Regions from separate parts of the Homo sapiens genome. Here region 1 is linked to region 2. Evidence: fine-mapped expression QTL. Tissue or cell type: testis. Region 2 holds a variant in brackets; the other region holds the start of a gene. All regions are shown on one strand. Distances are between the middles of the regions.

The links. PIP is the estimated chance that this variant, and not a neighbour inherited with it, causes the effect.
Region 1: ANTXRL starts here. The variant in region 2 is fine-mapped to the expression of ANTXRL in testis (GTEx, PIP 0.97).

What each region holds. Positions count from the first base shown.
Region 1 is chr10:46,282,961-46,291,071 of GRCh38, reverse strand. ANTXRL (ANTXR like) reads right to left here and starts at 4,075. Exons shown (of 17, transcript NM_001278688.3): 1 at 3,562-4,075. The coding sequence starts at 3,809. It overlaps LOC105378577 (a long non-coding RNA gene), which reads right to left and starts at 6,222. Exons shown (of 1, transcript NR_160731.1): 1 at 5,075-6,222. RefSeq lists silencers at 6,032-6,521, 7,886-8,035.
Region 2 is chr10:45,839,228-45,847,321 of GRCh38, reverse strand. It overlaps AGAP4 (ArfGAP with GTPase domain, ankyrin repeat and PH domain 4), which reads left to right. Exons shown (of 8, transcript NM_001276343.3): 1 at 1-197; 2 at 567-635; 3 at 2,928-2,996; 4 at 5,635-5,669. It also overlaps the pseudogene PARGP1-AGAP4. Among named protein-coding and RNA genes, the nearest start is that of AGAP4, 4.2 kb to the left of the region's middle. The variant AAT/T (reference allele first, on the strand shown) is at 3,092.

The DNA.
Region 1 (8,111 bases), 440 kb before region 2:
TGTAAAGGCTAAAACTTTTAAGCTCTTAGTAGAAAACATAACTTTTATGACATTAGATTTGGGGATTTTTTTGGATATGGCACCAAAAACACAGGCAACAAAATTAAAAATAGAAAAGTTGAGACTGTATCCAGATTAAAAACTTTTGTGCATCAAAGGACACTACCAAAGGAGTGAAAAGACAACCTGCAGAATGGGAGGAAATATTTACAACTCATATACCTGATAAGGGATTAATATCCAGAATATACAAAGAACTCCTACAACAACAACGAAAAAGAAACAACAAAAAAATGCAACAAAAAAAATGGGCAAAGGATTTGAATAGACATTTCCTCAAAGAAGATATGCAAATGGCCAATAAGCACATGAAAAGATGCTCCACATCACTAGTCACTAGGGAAATGCCAATGAAAGCCTCAAGGAGATACAACTTCACACCCATTGGGGTGACTATTATCAAAAACCAGAAAATAGCAAATGTTGGGCTTTTGTTGGTGGGAATGCAAAATGGTGCAATCACTGTGGGAAACAGCTTGGCATTTCCTCAGAAAGCTAAACATAGGATCACCATAGGATCCATCAATTGCACTCCCTGGCATATACCAAAAAGAAGTGAGAGTAGGGACTCCAAGAGATACGTATACACCAGCGTTCATAGCAGCATTATTCACAATTGCCAAATGGCAGAAGCAACCCAAGTGTCCATCAACAGACGAAAAGATAAACAGGCCGGGCGAGGTGGCTCACGCTTGGAATCCCAGCGCTTTGGAAGGCCAAGGCCGGGGAATCACGAGGTCAGGAGTTCAAGACCAACCTGTCCAATATGGTGAAACCCTGTATGTACTAAAAAATACAAAAATTAGCCTGGCGTGGTGGCATGCCCCTGTAGTCCCAGCTACTCAGGAGGCTGATGCAGGGAGAATCGCTTGAAACTGGGAGGTGGAGGTTGCAATGAGCCGAGATCGCGCCGCTGAACTCCAGCCAGGCAGCAGAATACTCCAACTCAAAAAAAAAAAAAAAAAAGATAAAGAAAATGTGGTACATATACATACAGAGAAATATTATTCAGCCATAAAAGGGATGAAATTCTGATGGATGCGACAACATGGGATAAACTTGAAAACATTATGCTAAGTGAAAAAGGTCAGACAGAAAAGGCCAAATATTATATGTTTGCTTGATTACATTGTGTGACTCCCCTTACATGAAGTACCTACAATAGGCAAACTCATAGATAGAGAAAATACACTAAAGGTCACTAGGGCTTGGGGAAGGGAGGAATGGGGAGTTATTGTTTAATGGAAATAGAAGTTTTTTGGGTTTTGATGGGGATGGGGTTTGAGACAGGGTCTCACTCTGTCGCCCAGGATGGAGTGCAGTGGTGTAATCTTGACACACAGCAGTCTTGACCTCTCAGGCTCAAGCGATCCTCCTGCCTCAGCTCAGGCTGAGTAGCTGGGAGTGGAGGCACACATCACCATGCCTGGCTAATTTTTGTATGTTTTGTATGGACAGGATTTTGCATGTTTCCCAGGCTGATCTTGAACTCCTAGACTCAAGCGATCCTCTTGCCTTGGCTCCCAAATTGCTGGGATTACAGGAGGGAGCTACTGCTCCCGGCTGAGAATAGAGTTTCAATACGCAATGATGAAACATTTCTGGAGATGGATGGTGGTGATTGCACAACACTGTGAATGTACTTAATGCCGCTGAATTGTACACTTAAAAATGGTAAATTTTTGTTATGTATGTTTTCCCACAATTAAAAAATTACTCAAAAAATACAAGGGGTCATTCCCACTTAGAGCCCTCAAATGTCACCTGGCCAAGAATAGGAGCGCATGGGAGGCTGATTCATTTTCTTCCAGCTCAATCCAATCAATGAACAAGTGAATAATGAGTCTCATGAATAAGCTGGACGCTAATGACCAAAGAGCCTGCCTGCAGGCAGTAGATGTTGTTTCTGCCTGGAGGATTACCGCAAGTTTCTCAGGGTCCCGCCCAGCTGCGTGGTCTTTGGATGGGCTTTGGAGTCACAAAATCCAGAGTTTCAATTCAGCACCATGGTCTATCTGGAGGCTGTGGTGGGTCATTCCCTGGCCATGACCTGGCTCATTGCCTCCTCCTTAGAATGGGGCAATGCCCTTTACCCCCAGCCTTGTTAGGAAGACTCATTAAGGTTGCTTTTGTCTGCTCCCTTTACATCCACTCTAGGCACTCCCTCTGCATTCCCCCTCATCCAGTCTGTCTGGGATTACATCAGGGCCTCTGCAGTTCCTGTGAGTTTCTAGCCTGTGGCTCTGCCTTGCCTGGCAGGTCCCTTCATCCCCATCCTCTGTCATCGCCTCTGACCTGCAAATTCTCCCTTCATCCTCATCACACTTGGCAAGGTGAAAATGAAGATACCCTTTTTACAGATGGGGGACACGAAGGCACAGAATGATGAAGCAACTTGCCCAAGACTATGTGGCTAGTGAGTGGACTCTGCCTGTCTCCAGAACTGAGTTGCTCCTTCCCCAAGAGTAGCAGAACAGTCAGAAACCATGGGAATTGGTGGGCTGGGGTACACGTCCCCTAACCATTAGTATCCAGGAGGAATGAGAAAAATCAGAGGAATTTCAACCTGCGATGCTGGAAAGTGTGCAGCACAGGAAGCCGGAGTCTTGTCACACTAGCTGTCTCTGGATGCTTCCCCAACCTCCAGGAGCCACCCTTGTCCAGGAACCAGATAGAAAAATACCTGTACTACTCACAGCCCAGGATTGTGGTGAGGTGCCAGGAGTGCAGGGGAAGGGCTTTGGAGGCCAGAAAGTGCTGCAACATTCTCCTGAAGATTGCACCACTGCTGCTACTGAATAAGCACAGAGTATTACCACCCAGCAGGAGGAGCAGGAAAGGGAACCAAGGCAATCTCTCCAAAGCTGAACATTTGCCTCTTTTCTTTCCTGGTGAGCCAGAAGGTGCCTAATACGTAGCCCAGCTTCCCCAGGGCCAGCCTGAAACAGACCAAACTGTTCTGAAAGTGTAGGAACTATCGCGTGGCTCTCCAAGTTGCAGAAGAGGCACTTAGAAGCAGCCAACCAAAGGCCTTCTCTAAGCAGTGACATTAGAATGCCCAACACAGGCAACAAAGCAATCTCTGTGGGGCCCAGTAAAATAGAAGTCATTTGCGTGAAAAAACAAACAAGCAAAACAACACAGAAACCCCAAACATCCGCAGTGAGCATCTGAGAACTGCTGAGAGGCAGGTCCGAGCAATCATCTGTTGCAGCAGCGTGAGGATGAGGATGCTGACCCAGCTGATGGAGGGGTAGGGAATCGTCCAGAACCCCTTTGGTGGCTTTTTTCCTCATCCAGGAGATGAAGCACCAGGGAAAAGAAAGCCAGGGCATTCTTTCTGCCTCAGAAAAACAGGAGGCCTAGGTCTGGTCTGACCAAAGTTTGGCCCTGCTTCTGTGACGGAAGCTTGCATCTCCTTGAGTGGTGTCCTGTCCCTAGTGAAAAAGAGACAGTGGCTCCTGAGGGTGACCCAGGGCCAGAGCTAGAAGGGACACTCACTTGTCCAAGATGAAGTAGAGGTCAAATGAGCCCTGGCATCTGTGACCTGCTTGCCCCTGGCGCCAGTGCTGCCTCCATCCTGGGCCATGGTGGTGGTGGGCTCTCCTGGAGCCCAGGGCCAGGCGGTGAAATATTCTCCAGTCAGGTCCATGGTACCGAAGGCTTCCTGCTCTAAAAAGCGGTGGAGGAAGCAGCAGCAGCAGCAGGAAGACCAGGAAGTAGGGCCCCAGGGACTCATGGCTCCCCATTATCTGGCTGTCCCTGTGACCCCACCTCACTCTTGGGTGCCTGTGCCAGGGCCCAGAGAGGCTGAGCACAGGCCCCTTCTTTGCCGCCTCCCCTTATGCCCGGGGCCACACCCCTCCTCCTGCCCTTTCACCAGTGCACACTATGGCCCTCCACCAGGTACCTCCCCAGATCGCAGGGACTAGGGTCAGCAGCTGGCTCTGGGAGACTTGCTTCCAGCTACCTGCCTGGCCCTTCCCCCACCCTGGGGACAGAATTCTCTGTTATGGTTGACAGGAAGGTTGACATGGTGACTTTGTGACCTGCAGCTCTTCCCAATGTCCTGCATGTTGACAACATCAGGGGGAGGCACAGGACCTTTGGAGGGGCTACAAGAGGAAGCCTCCATTTCCCTTATAACAGCCCTCACAGTGTCCCTTAAAACCACTAGACCCTGCTGTTTGTTCATTGGAAGAGTTAGCCCAGGTGAGTTAGGTGAGGACATTGCTGTGGGTGAGGAGGTCAAGGACTGGGAGGCCAGAGTGTTGGCAATGGGAGGTTATTTGTGTGACACTGAAGTCCCCCAGGAGATGGCAGTTCGGGAAGGAGATGGAAACTGCAGTGTTGCCAGAGTCTTTGTGAATGAGGGACATTCCGGTTCTCTACTGCTGTGTAACAGACCACCTACATTTAGGGACACAGAACAGGCCCATTTTATTATGCTCACAGGTTCTGAGGATCAGGCACTCAGGGCGGAGTTAGGAGGGCTCCTCATGTCTGGGGCCCCATAACTTGAAGGATTGGGCACTGGAATTATCTGGAGGCTGCTCCACTCACAAGTGTGGCTCCTAGGCAGGAGGGCCCAAAACCTGGGCTCAGCTGGGACTGTGAATGGAGACCCTGCATGTAGCCTCCCCGTGTGACCTGGGCTTCCTCCCAGCATGGCAGCTTCAGGGTGCTTGGGCTTTTACAGGTGGCCCAGAGGTCCAAGAGTGAGTATTTTCAGTGAGCACGGCAGAAACTGTAGAGCTTTTTATGACATCACCTTGGAAGTCACACAGTGTCACTTCCACTGTGCTCTATTGGTCCAAGCAGTCACAGCTGCCAAGAGTCAATGGGCAGGAACACAGGCCCCCTCTCTAGGGAAAGAATGTGGACAGGTTCACATCCCAGTGTCAAAACTGCTGTATGACCAACGCTTTGAATAGCAGAGAGGTTACAGTGTGTGGAAAGACGTAGGCACCAATGAGTGAGACTCAAACAGGACTCAGAAAAGTCAGACTGTAACTGTTAGAAACACCTTAATCAATTTTATTTTATTTTGTATGCACAAGAGTGATATCCAATTAAAAATCGTTCTCTAATAAGTCTAAAATATATCTTTCAATATGTGTAATATACAAATTACAAGTGATAAAAGTATTGGGTTAGTTTTTTGTTCTTTGATTTCTTTTGTTTTGGAACTGTATTTAATATAATAGAGTATCTTAAATAAGGGGTATTTCAGAATGAATGAAGCCCAGTATATTTCCTTCAAAAGCATATTTGAGCTATCTTGCTTCATTCTTCTTGATACTTGGTATTAGCATACTTTAATATTTTTGCCTGGTGGTAAGTCATCTCCTTGTGGTTTACTTTTTTCTTATTTTATTTATTTATTTTTTTGTAGAGACAGGGTCTTGCTATGTTTCCCAGGCTAGACTCCACCTCCTGGCCTCAAGGGATCCTCTGGCCCTGGACTCCCAAGCGCTGAGATTAGAGGTGTGTGAGCCACCCTCACTGCCCTCTTTGTGGTCTTAATTTGCTATTTCCTAATTACTAATGGGAACTGGTCACCTACTCACTTGATTTTGGTCGTTCATGGTTCCTCTTTGAAGTGCCTATTTAATGCCGGCATCCATTCTTTGCTTCAGGTGTTTTTCTCTTTCACATTGACTCAATAACAGTCTTTATATATCCTGGATACTAATCCTTTATCACTTGCTGCAAGTATCTTCTTTTACTCTGTGGCTTGTTTTTTTCACTTCATTTATTGTTTTTTAAACAAAGCCTAAGTTCTTAATTTTAACGTACTTGAACTGACATTTTCTACCCTGGCCCCCTCCCACCCTTAGTTCCCAGACACCTCTTATGATCTGGGGTCGAGGAGCCCGCCTTCCTGGCGGTCTCAGCTGGGGCCTGGGGAGCGAAGGCGGCGGGCGCTCGCGGGAGGAGCTGCGCGATTCGGATGCTGGGGAGGTGAAGCTCGCGGGGCCGCCAGGCCGCCGGGGTAAGGAAGGCCGGGAGGCCGCGGGGGTCCACGGCGCGGAGGGAGCCGCAGGCACCGGGCACAGCCCTCGCCCATCGCCGAGACCCGGCAGGCCCAGGAGCCAGAGGGCGGCGGCGTGAGAGGGAACCGCCTCCAAAGGACGCCCTCGCCCTCCCGCAGGCATAGTCGCAGGCGCCAGTCCCGGTCCGAGCCAGCTGGGGGTGGCTCCGGGGAGCTGAGCCGGGGGAGGGCCGGGCCGCCCAACGGATCAATAGGGGGGTTTCTCCCAGGTTGCCGTTTCTCTGGCCCGCGACGCCCTACCCGCCGGAGCCGCCCAACCGCAAGCCCCGCCCCGAAGGCGGGTGCAGCCAGGAAGGCGGGGCCTGGTGGCCTCTGGGCGCTGGCGCCAAGTTCAGAGCCGCGCCCTGGGCTGGGCGGTGGCGGCCGCGTCTGCACTTCCCCCCCTGCGCGCCTCTGGAGAGCCCGGGAGAGACGCACCCTCAGGTCGGCCAAGACCGAGAACAAGCGGGCGCGGGCAGCGGAGCCCATCTCACTTGCACGAAAGGCAGCGTTCTTGAGTCCTGCCTTTGACGGCGGGGGGTTCTTCCCTTCCCTCTGTCAGCTTCCTCCAGCTCTCTCCCATGTCCTTTCCGAGTCCCATTGCTGTCCCTGTCTCTTGCCTCTCTGCTTCTTGTCTCCTTGTCCTCTCCTGTTTCTCTCATCTCTCCCTTTTTCTTGTGTCCGCCTTGTTGGCTATTTCTCTTTTATCCTTTTTCCTTCTCTCTCTTTCGGCCTCTCCCCTCACTCTCCCTATAGGCTTCCTTCTCTCTTGCAAGCAAGAATTCTTCTTATGTTTTTCCCCTAAGGTGACTTCTTGGCCATAATCGTTTGCATCCACCCCTCCCCGCCCCAGCCCTCTCTCTGTTCATCTTGTAGTGCCCCATTATTCTCATCCAGGGCTTGTGCTAGGTGCTGGCGTCTTCAGCCCAGATCCTTTCTCCAACAGAGTATATACAAAGATCTGCACATGTAACCCGTTCAGTGCCTTTCCTGGGAAAAAGTACATAGATGATCAAATTATAAATCTCTGAATTTTCAGGGTCACCTGAAAAAAATACCTGGTTTTAGATACAAGACAATTGAATCCTTTTCTTGACATTTTGCGTTTACTCATAGAGGCACAGACAGCACAGCAGGAAGCTAAGCCTTGCAGAAGCTTTTAGGGGACATTGCCACCCACACCTTCTGTGCAATGCCAGGTGCAGGGGAGGCAAGGGACAGGATACAGACCTGGGTTGTGGGAAGACAGTGGGAGGCCAGGGCTTTGCACTTGAAACATTTGGGTGAGACTGACTGGAAATAAGAAATTAACAGTAAATTTCTAAAATATGTAGTTGCTTTGCCTCCTCAGAAATAATGGAACCTGATGTTGTGGTATATTGTGATCTTTAATGATATTCCAGCTTTTGACCAGCTTCTGTGGAACATCTCTACCCTGCCCTGCAGACTACCCTGTGACTCCTGGAAGTCTAGGTCCTTTGTTGCATGGAGAGGATGCAAACCACGTGCTGCAGCTCCCGATGCCTTTTCCGAGCAGATTCCTCAGAGGGGGTGCCTGACATCAGAGATGAATTTCAGCCAATGCCTCCGAAGAGGCAGATGCAGAAACCTCACTCCTCTCAGTAACCCTGAGCAAAGCACTCAACCTCTCTGAGCCTCGGGTTTCCATCTGTAAAATGGGCTCAAGCTAAGTTGTCTCTCCAGACTGTCAGGCGGCGCGCAGGGAGGAGGTGCAGACGCGGCCGCCACCGCCAAGCGCCCAGCGCGCGGCTCTGAACTTGGCGCCAGAGCCCTGAGGACACCAGGCCCCGCCTTCCTGGCCGCACACGCCTTCGGGGCAGGGCTTGTGGGTGGGCGGCCCCCGCGCGGGAGGGTGCCGCGGGCCAGAGAACTCGCAATCCGGGAGAAAGCCTCTGATCAGCTGGGCAGCCCAGCCCTCCCCGGGCTCAGCTCGGCGGACAGCCCTCTGATGGCTCGGGCTGGGCCGGGCGCCGGCGCCTGCGGGAGGGCGAGGGCA
Region 2 (8,094 bases):
GCACCCTAGCGTCAGCCTCGAGTTTGACCAGCAGCAGGGGTCGGTGTGTCCCTCTGAATCTGAGATCTATGAGGCAGGAGCTGGGGACAGGATGGCAGGAGCGCCCATGGCTGCTGCTGTACAGCCTGCTGAGGTGACTGTTGAAGTTGGTGAGGACCTCCACATGCACCACGTTCGTGACCGGGAGATGCCTGAAGGTGAGGAGGTGATAGGTGCCATCTACCCTCGGTTTGCCTCTGGCTGCTACTGTCCCCAAGGTTCCCTTTGAGGCATCCCCCACTTCGAGCTCCTTTCTGCTTGTAGCCAGCTTTCCCGGGAGCTGGCCAGGAACAAAAGCTGGCTCTGCCTTGAATTCCCACCCCTTAGTATTTCCCCACCGAGTCCAGTCAGTTTCTTTTCGCCTCCCCTCCCAATCGCCCAGTTCTTGCTCTCTCATCTCATTCTCCCAGGCTGGCATGGGACCATTTATTTATGGCTCTTGTCGAATAAGCAGCAGTTGAATAAATGAGTTGATAAATTTTTATAAATGATTACATCTTTTTTCTTTTCTCCCTCTATACATATAGCTTTGGAGTTTAACCTTTCTGCCAATCCAGAGGCAAGCACAATATTCCAGAGGAACTCTCAAACAGATGGTGAGACAACAGTGTCTGTAGCTCTGTTTATTATCCTGTGGGACTTTGTTTAGGCTTCTTTGAGCTATTCTCTTCCTTTTCTCAATAAAAACTCAAATATCCCAACTTTTCAGTACCCATCTTATTTTTTCTTTGTACCTATCCAGATGGTACCTAAGTGAAGGAACCAGGTAAGTGCCTAATTGTTTCCTTTGTTAAAGTAGCCAAATCTCAAGACAGTTCCTATTCAAATATTTGGGGATTTCTTATTTAAAATCAGAATGGAGTTTGCCATGGGAGAGGCTATATGGTATTCTTAATGGGCTGCTTTAAGTCACCTTGATAGAAGCTGCTTAGTTTCTTCTAACTGTAATTTGAACACAGAAGGAAAAAGAAAAAAGGAGAGTGCTTAAAATAATTGTGAAAGGTGTGAAATGTCACAGCCGGGGCTGCAGAAAAATGGTTGTGTGTGTGTGTTTGGGGTTTCTCAAAGGAGTTTACCTATGAAGCTCTTTTCTGTTAAAGTTCTTACTTTAACAGAAAATGTGTCTCCAGATTTATTCTGGTGACTTAACAGACTTTATTTACCTCCTTGTTCTAAAAGAGAGGTGGGGATTGGTTCATGGTCAAAACTTTCAAAAGACATGAAACGTCAATGTAGACTTTCAATGTGTAATATAAAGATTGCAGGTTAAAATGTCAGACCTTCCCTGTAAGAGTGTTTGTTGCCATGGCTCCCCCTTTGTCCCTTCCCCTCCTGACAATAGCATCTTGTTCAAAGATAAGAAAGTTACAGTTTTGGCTGGGCTTGGTGGCTCACGCCTGTAATCCCAGCACTTTGGGAGGCCGTGGCAGGCGGATCACCTGAGGTCAGGAGTTCCAGACCAGCCTGGCCAACATGGTGAAACGCTGTCTCTACTAAAAAAAAAATACAAAAATTAGCTGGGCGTAGTGGCACATGACTGTAGTTCCAGCTACTCACAAGGCTGAGGCAGGAGAATTGCTTGGACCTGGGAGGTGGAGGTTGCAGTGAGCAGAGATCACGCCAATGCACTCCAGCCTGGGTGACAGAGCGAGACTCCGTCTCACAAAAAAAAAAAGGAAAGAAAGTTGGAGTTTTTTAGTCTCTACACTGCTGGCAGAGGCAGGGGATGGGAGCCGGTAGAAAAGAGAAAACAATTAGTTCGTTTGCCTCTAAAATTTTGCAAAGAGATGAATCTAAGTAAAAGTAATTCTGGGTAATAATATGGTTCTTGAATAAAAACTGAAATTTTCAAAATAGAAAACATTGCATCATAAACATATTACATCCAGTAGGCTTATTGTTTTCATTTAAATGCCAGAGATTTCATCACTGTAGAGGAAATGTCTTATAGCTCTTCTATTTAAACTTTGGTTGCGCTCTTAATTTTTAAAGAGGTAGGATAATTAAGACTCATTATGAGTGTGACTTTGTAACTTGGAAGTACTATCTTCACATTTCAAGATATTTAAGGATTGCTTTAGAATAAACAAATGTATTATGTGAATTAATTGATTGTACCTTTATACACAAAGCATGTAAGTACTTGTGTAAACTTATACTCTGCTTGGTGATGTTCGGAAAGCCTGATGGATGTTACACACCAGTTAGTAGATGGGTAGTGTTGGATGAGAGCCCAAAAATGGCTCTTTATTGTCATTCTTTAGGATTACAACACAGTTTATGTATGTCTCACTTGGCCCTTTCCAATACAAATAAGGCCTGTGTATGTTCTCCCTATGTGTTGCTAACGAAGAAATGAAAACTTAGAGATATCACATGACTATGGAAGACAGCTACTCAAGAGAACTAAGGTTCTGTGTCCTCAGAATGAAATGGAAGTGACAGATATGATGAATTTACTTTTTAAAAATTTTAAAAACTCTAGAATACATCTTATATTTTGCCTATAAAATAGACCTGTCTTTTAAAACTTACTGCCATCTTGATTTATTTTATGCAAAGTTGATTTTACACAACTCAAAGCCAAAATTTACCTCTTCTTTTTTTTTTTTTTTTTAAATAAAGGAGGGTGTCATTATGTTACTCATGCTGGCCTCAACTTCCTGACCTGGGTTCAAGTGATTTTCCCATCTCAGCCTCCTGAGTAGCTGGGACTACAAGCATGTGCCATCTTGCCTGGCTCTCTCTTATGTCTATACATTCATTTCAATGGATAAGAATCAAAGTAGAGATAGTGAAATAGCCTAAATGCAGCAGTCGAATAAACGAGTTGATAAATTTTTATCAATGATTACATCTTTTTTTCTTTTCTTCCTCTATGCATATAGCTTTGGAGTTTAACCCTTCTGCCAATCCAGAGGCAAGCACAATATTCCAGAGGAACTCTCAAACAGATGGTGAGACGACATTGTTTTTTCCACCAAGAGAAAGAATAAAAGCTCTTGTTTGATCAGGTTATAGAAAGTATTTAGAAAAACTCATATTGGTTTAA[AAT/T]TTTCATCTTTTCACATGTTCCCTTGTCTTATTTTAATATGTGATATACTTTCCTTTAGTTGTTATGATGTTAGTGAAAACGTGTAACCTTTTTGTTTATACATTTTGCCATCTTTTTATCAACACAATTAATTTGTGATGTGATGGAGGAGTCATGGATTTCTCTTTATAATTCTTGGATTTATCTTTATTTATAATTAATGGATTCATCTTTATTTACAATCCCTTTTCCCTTGCTCCAAAAAGTACATTTTAAAGATGAATGATAGAACTTCAGCTTGGTTTTCATTTAAACAAATTAAAAAACATAGTCGTTTATCATCAGGGATTGAATCTGTGATTTGGGCCTCCTCTTACACAGTCCTCTGACCACATTCATTTACCACATCCAAGTTTACGCTACTCAAAAGTTTTAGGTTATTAACTTTTTCATTTGATATAATGTAAATTTAAACATGCCTTACTCCTGCTTATTTCCCTTAATGTTATATTAAATCCTCATTTATTTGCCAACAAGCCATACACAGCCAAGTTTTCCAGTTGACTTAAACAGCAAGAACACAAGTGAGGGTTCTATTATAATGTGCGAAGTAATGCAGCACAGTAAAACACGGGAGTTTGTAACCTTTGTTTTTATAGTTTGAGTAGACTTTGCCCATCTTGAGTCAGTTATTTCTGGTTAGAATTTGTCTTCATTTTTTACATTACTATAAAGAGATACCTAAGGCTGGGTAATTTATAACAAAAAGAGGTTTAATTGGCTCAAAGATTTTCAGGCTGTACAAACATGGCTTTAACATCTGCTTCTGGTGAGGGCCTCAGCAAACTTACAATCATGATAAAAGGCAAAGGGGAAGCAGGTGGTTCCACACCGTGAAAGAGGGAGGAGAGAGGGGAAGGGGGAAGGTACCACACTCTTTTTTTTTTTTTTTGAAATGGAGTCTCACTCTGTTGCCCAGGCTGGAGTGCAATGGCACGATCTTGGCTCACTACAACCTCCATCTCCCAGGTTCAAGCAATTCTCCTGCCTCAGCCTCCCGAGTAGTTGGGACTATAGGTGGGCACCATAACACCTGGCTAATTTCTGTATTTTTGGTAGAGACAGGGTTTCACCATGTTAGCCAGACTGGTCTGAAACTCCTGACCTCAAGTGATCTACCCGCTTCAGCCTCCCAAAGTGCTGGGATTACAGGCTTCAGCCACCGCACCTGGCCAGTACCACAGTCTTTTAAATTACCATAATGAGAATGTGCTTATTACCATGGGGATGGGACCAAGCCATTCATAAGGAATCCACTGCCATTACCCAAACGCCTCCCACTAGGCCCTGTCTCCAACATTAAGGGTCACATGTTAACATGAGACTTGGAGGGGCAACATATCCAAAACATATCAGAATTGTATTTCCCAGTTCCTTCCAGAGGCATGGGCTTCTCACACCTAGAGAGCATGGAAGCAGTAAAAGAAAAGCTATTCCATGTCCCTCACTCTTCAGTGGTAGTAACTTTTGCCTACAAGGCCCTCCCAGCATCAAAGGCAGAGGCAGTGTAGGAAACAAAGCATGGCCCAAGTCCCTCTTGGGGCTTTTATTATTCTGGCCTCTTTTTAGGGAAAAAAAATGATTTTTTGTGCTGCAGACACCATGTCCAATTAGGTTTGTATACTTATTTTAACATCAAAATTTAGGCCAGGCTCTGTGGCTTACACCTGTAATCCCAACTCTTTGGGAGGTTGAGGTGGGTGGATCACGAGGTTAGGAGATCAAGACCATCCTGGCTAACACAGTGTAACTCTGTCTCTACTAAAAATACAAAAAACAATTAGCTAGGCATGGTGGCACGTGCCTGTGGTCCCAGCTAGTCCGGAGGCTAAGGCTGAAGAATTGCTTGAACCTGGGAGGCAGAGGTTGCAGTGCGCTGAGATCCCGCCACTGCACTCGAGCCTAGGTGACAGAGTGAGACTCCATCTCAAAAAAGAAAACAAATTTAAGATAGGTTACTTTCCAGTTGTGTAAAGACCATTTTTTAATTTTGTTTTGTTTTTAGTGACATATTAGTAGATAACCACTAAGTGTGGTTCAAGATGCTTACAGGGATTCTGTTGCATCTAGAGATAGGTGTCTGGTCAGGAAGTAGTTTTTAGAACTGTTAGCTCTTAGAGTCTGATAATTAAAGTAAGCTATGTGTAAATGCAGAATGAGAGAATACTAATGGATCATGGCTCATATATGCAACAGTTAAACTTTTTATTAGCTAAATTTTTCATCTGGCCTAATTTTTTTGCCCTTTTCTTTTGTACATGAGGATTCTTTCATTTGTGTGTAATAGAAACAAAAAGTAAACTAAATGAAAATCTAAGTTTTTAGATTTGACTTATGAAATTAATCATGCCAGATAATTTAAATTATATGTTATTGAAAATTTTTTTTTTAATGGAATTTTGTCTCATTTTTCATAGGAGTAATCAGTAAGATGTTAACAACTACTTTTATTTTATGGTATTTGTATCAGAAGTGACCAGTTTTTTTTTTTTTATTCTTAGTTGTAGAAATAAGAAGAAGCAACTGTACAAACCATGTAAGTAAACACTCAAATAGTTAAGAAATTGATAGTTTGACATAAAAGGATGTCTCTCTTGATTTCTTTAAATTACAATGTGGACCTGGTGGTGGTAGCATGGACCTCTTTTTGTGGATTTTCTAAATCTCTTCTATTTTCCTGAGTATTAAATTTATCCAGAAAAGTGCTTAGTTTAGCGTGTCCACCTTTTAAAGATTTCTGACATTTAAGTTAAATTTCAATAGTCCGGTTCAAAAGATCTGCCTTAAGGCTGGGCATGGTGGCTAACGTCTGTAATCACAACACTTTAGGAGGCCGAGGCAGGCTGATCATCTGAGGTCAGGAATTTGAGACAACCCTGACCAACATGGTGAAATTCTGTATCTACTAAAAATACAAAAGTAGCTGGGCGTGGTGGTGCATGCCTGTAATCTCAGCTACTCAGGAGGCTGAGGCAGGAGAATCACTTGAACCCAGGAGGCGGAGGTTGCAGTGAGCCAAGATCGCGCCATTGCACTCCAGCCTGGACGACAGAGCAAAACTCTGTCTCAAAAAAAAAAAAAAAATTGCCTTAAATATTTAATCTTATTTTTAATGAAAGAACAAAAATAGAATAGCTAAGTTAATTGCCAGCACTGTCTATTGACTTTCTGTCACAGCAGGTAAAAGCATACCTTCCCCGCTACACCATGATCTTATGTTTCTCCCTGTGTTTCTTCCAATTGTAGCACACTTTTTAATTAAATCAGTAATATTTACATGATTATGACTCTGCAAATATTATTCACTGCTAAGTCATATGGTGTTTTCACTGTGCCTCTGCATTCCATGTCCTTCATCCTGTCTCTGAAACAGTTCTGAAATCTGAGCACTTCTGCAATTCTCCTGGATCTTCTTTTTTCCTAGCCTACGTTAGTTTATCTATCCAAATATCGTTAAGTAGCCTCTGGGTGCTCTGTTTGCTTTCACATCCATTATTTTTTAGCATGAAGCTAATTTTCTGACTATATTCATTTGCCTGTTTTCTAACAGCTGTTTTCCCCCAAGTATTGTAGCATTTATCACATGCCTTTCAAAGATATTTTCCATCTGCGAAAACACATCTGTTCCTTTTTATGTTTGTGTGGGGGGCAACTTTCTTTGGCCTTTTGTCATCCTAGTTCAATATAGCGTGGGTTTCCCTAGATATGCTCAATGTCTGCTTTTCTGGGCTAACTCTTTAAAGTCTTTTGGTATCTCATGTAACTGCTGTCTTGTGTGGGATCGCCTGAGTCCTAGATTCTGTGTTTCCTTCTGTCCTGTTATCGTCTCTAGTTGTACTTGAACACATTTTCCTGTGTGGAGATGTTAAAATCCCTCCTCTTTGATAGAGAGTACACCTCTAGGTTGAATCTAAATTGTATGGTTCTGAAGACATTTTGCAGTTGTGCTCTTATTACAGTGTTGTTCTTGAATCTATTGCCAGTGTGTGATATGTTATTTACAACCAGGTTTTAGTTATCTGCGGAAGCTTTTTAGAATCTCTCTCTCTAAGGTTCTGAAATTTTATAACAGCTTGTTGGGGATCTTTTCATTTTATTGAGGCTACTAAACCTGCAGACTATCTCTTCTTGAGAATTTTTTTTTTTATTTTCTCTGTTACTTTTTTACTGATAGTCTTGTTATTCAGATGCTAGGCTGCTTAGACCAGTACGCCTGCATTGATTTTTAATTTTTCCCCTTGTATTTTTTTCAGTTTGTCTTTTTATTCTAGTTCTGGGATATTCTGTGACTTTATCCTCTACTATTTCTATTGAATTTTATATTTTTTGAGAGTGTTTTAAGATTTTTTTTTAAAGTTTTGCTCCTGATTTTGACTGGTCCTATCAATTCCTTTTTTCTATTGTTTTGATCTCTTTTCTTGGAGGCTTCCCTCCAATGTGTGGTGGTTCCTGGCCTGCTTTATTTGGAAGCAGGATTTCTGTTAACTGATAGCACTCAGTGTGAGGCCTTAGAAGCCTGACTAGCTTTTCATTTGGGAGACCTCAGTGTATTATCTGGGGATCTTTTTTGAAGACATTTCAGTTTCTTCTGAGAAGGATCTCCCAGTTTTCTGCCTGGAAAGTAAAAGCAGGCCTGGAAAGGAAAAGCAGAGTTAGCGAAGAAAGTTGGAGTTCCATTTTTGGTGTACAGTTTTCTTTATATCTCAGGTTTAAGCCATGGTATCTCTGAGCCAGAAATTCTCAGGTTTGATATATCCAGAGAACACACATCTAAGTTTCTTGTCAGATGGAAGGACAGGTGGACTTGGGGCTCTAGTTAGAGATTTGCAACTGACCTTGCTGGCTTTTTTTTTTTTTTCACATTTTACCCTACTTTCCAAAGTGCCATTTGCCTGTAAGTTCACAACCTGCCTTTAGTTCTGCAAGACAAACTGGCTCGCTTCTGTTCCAGTCACTTTCTG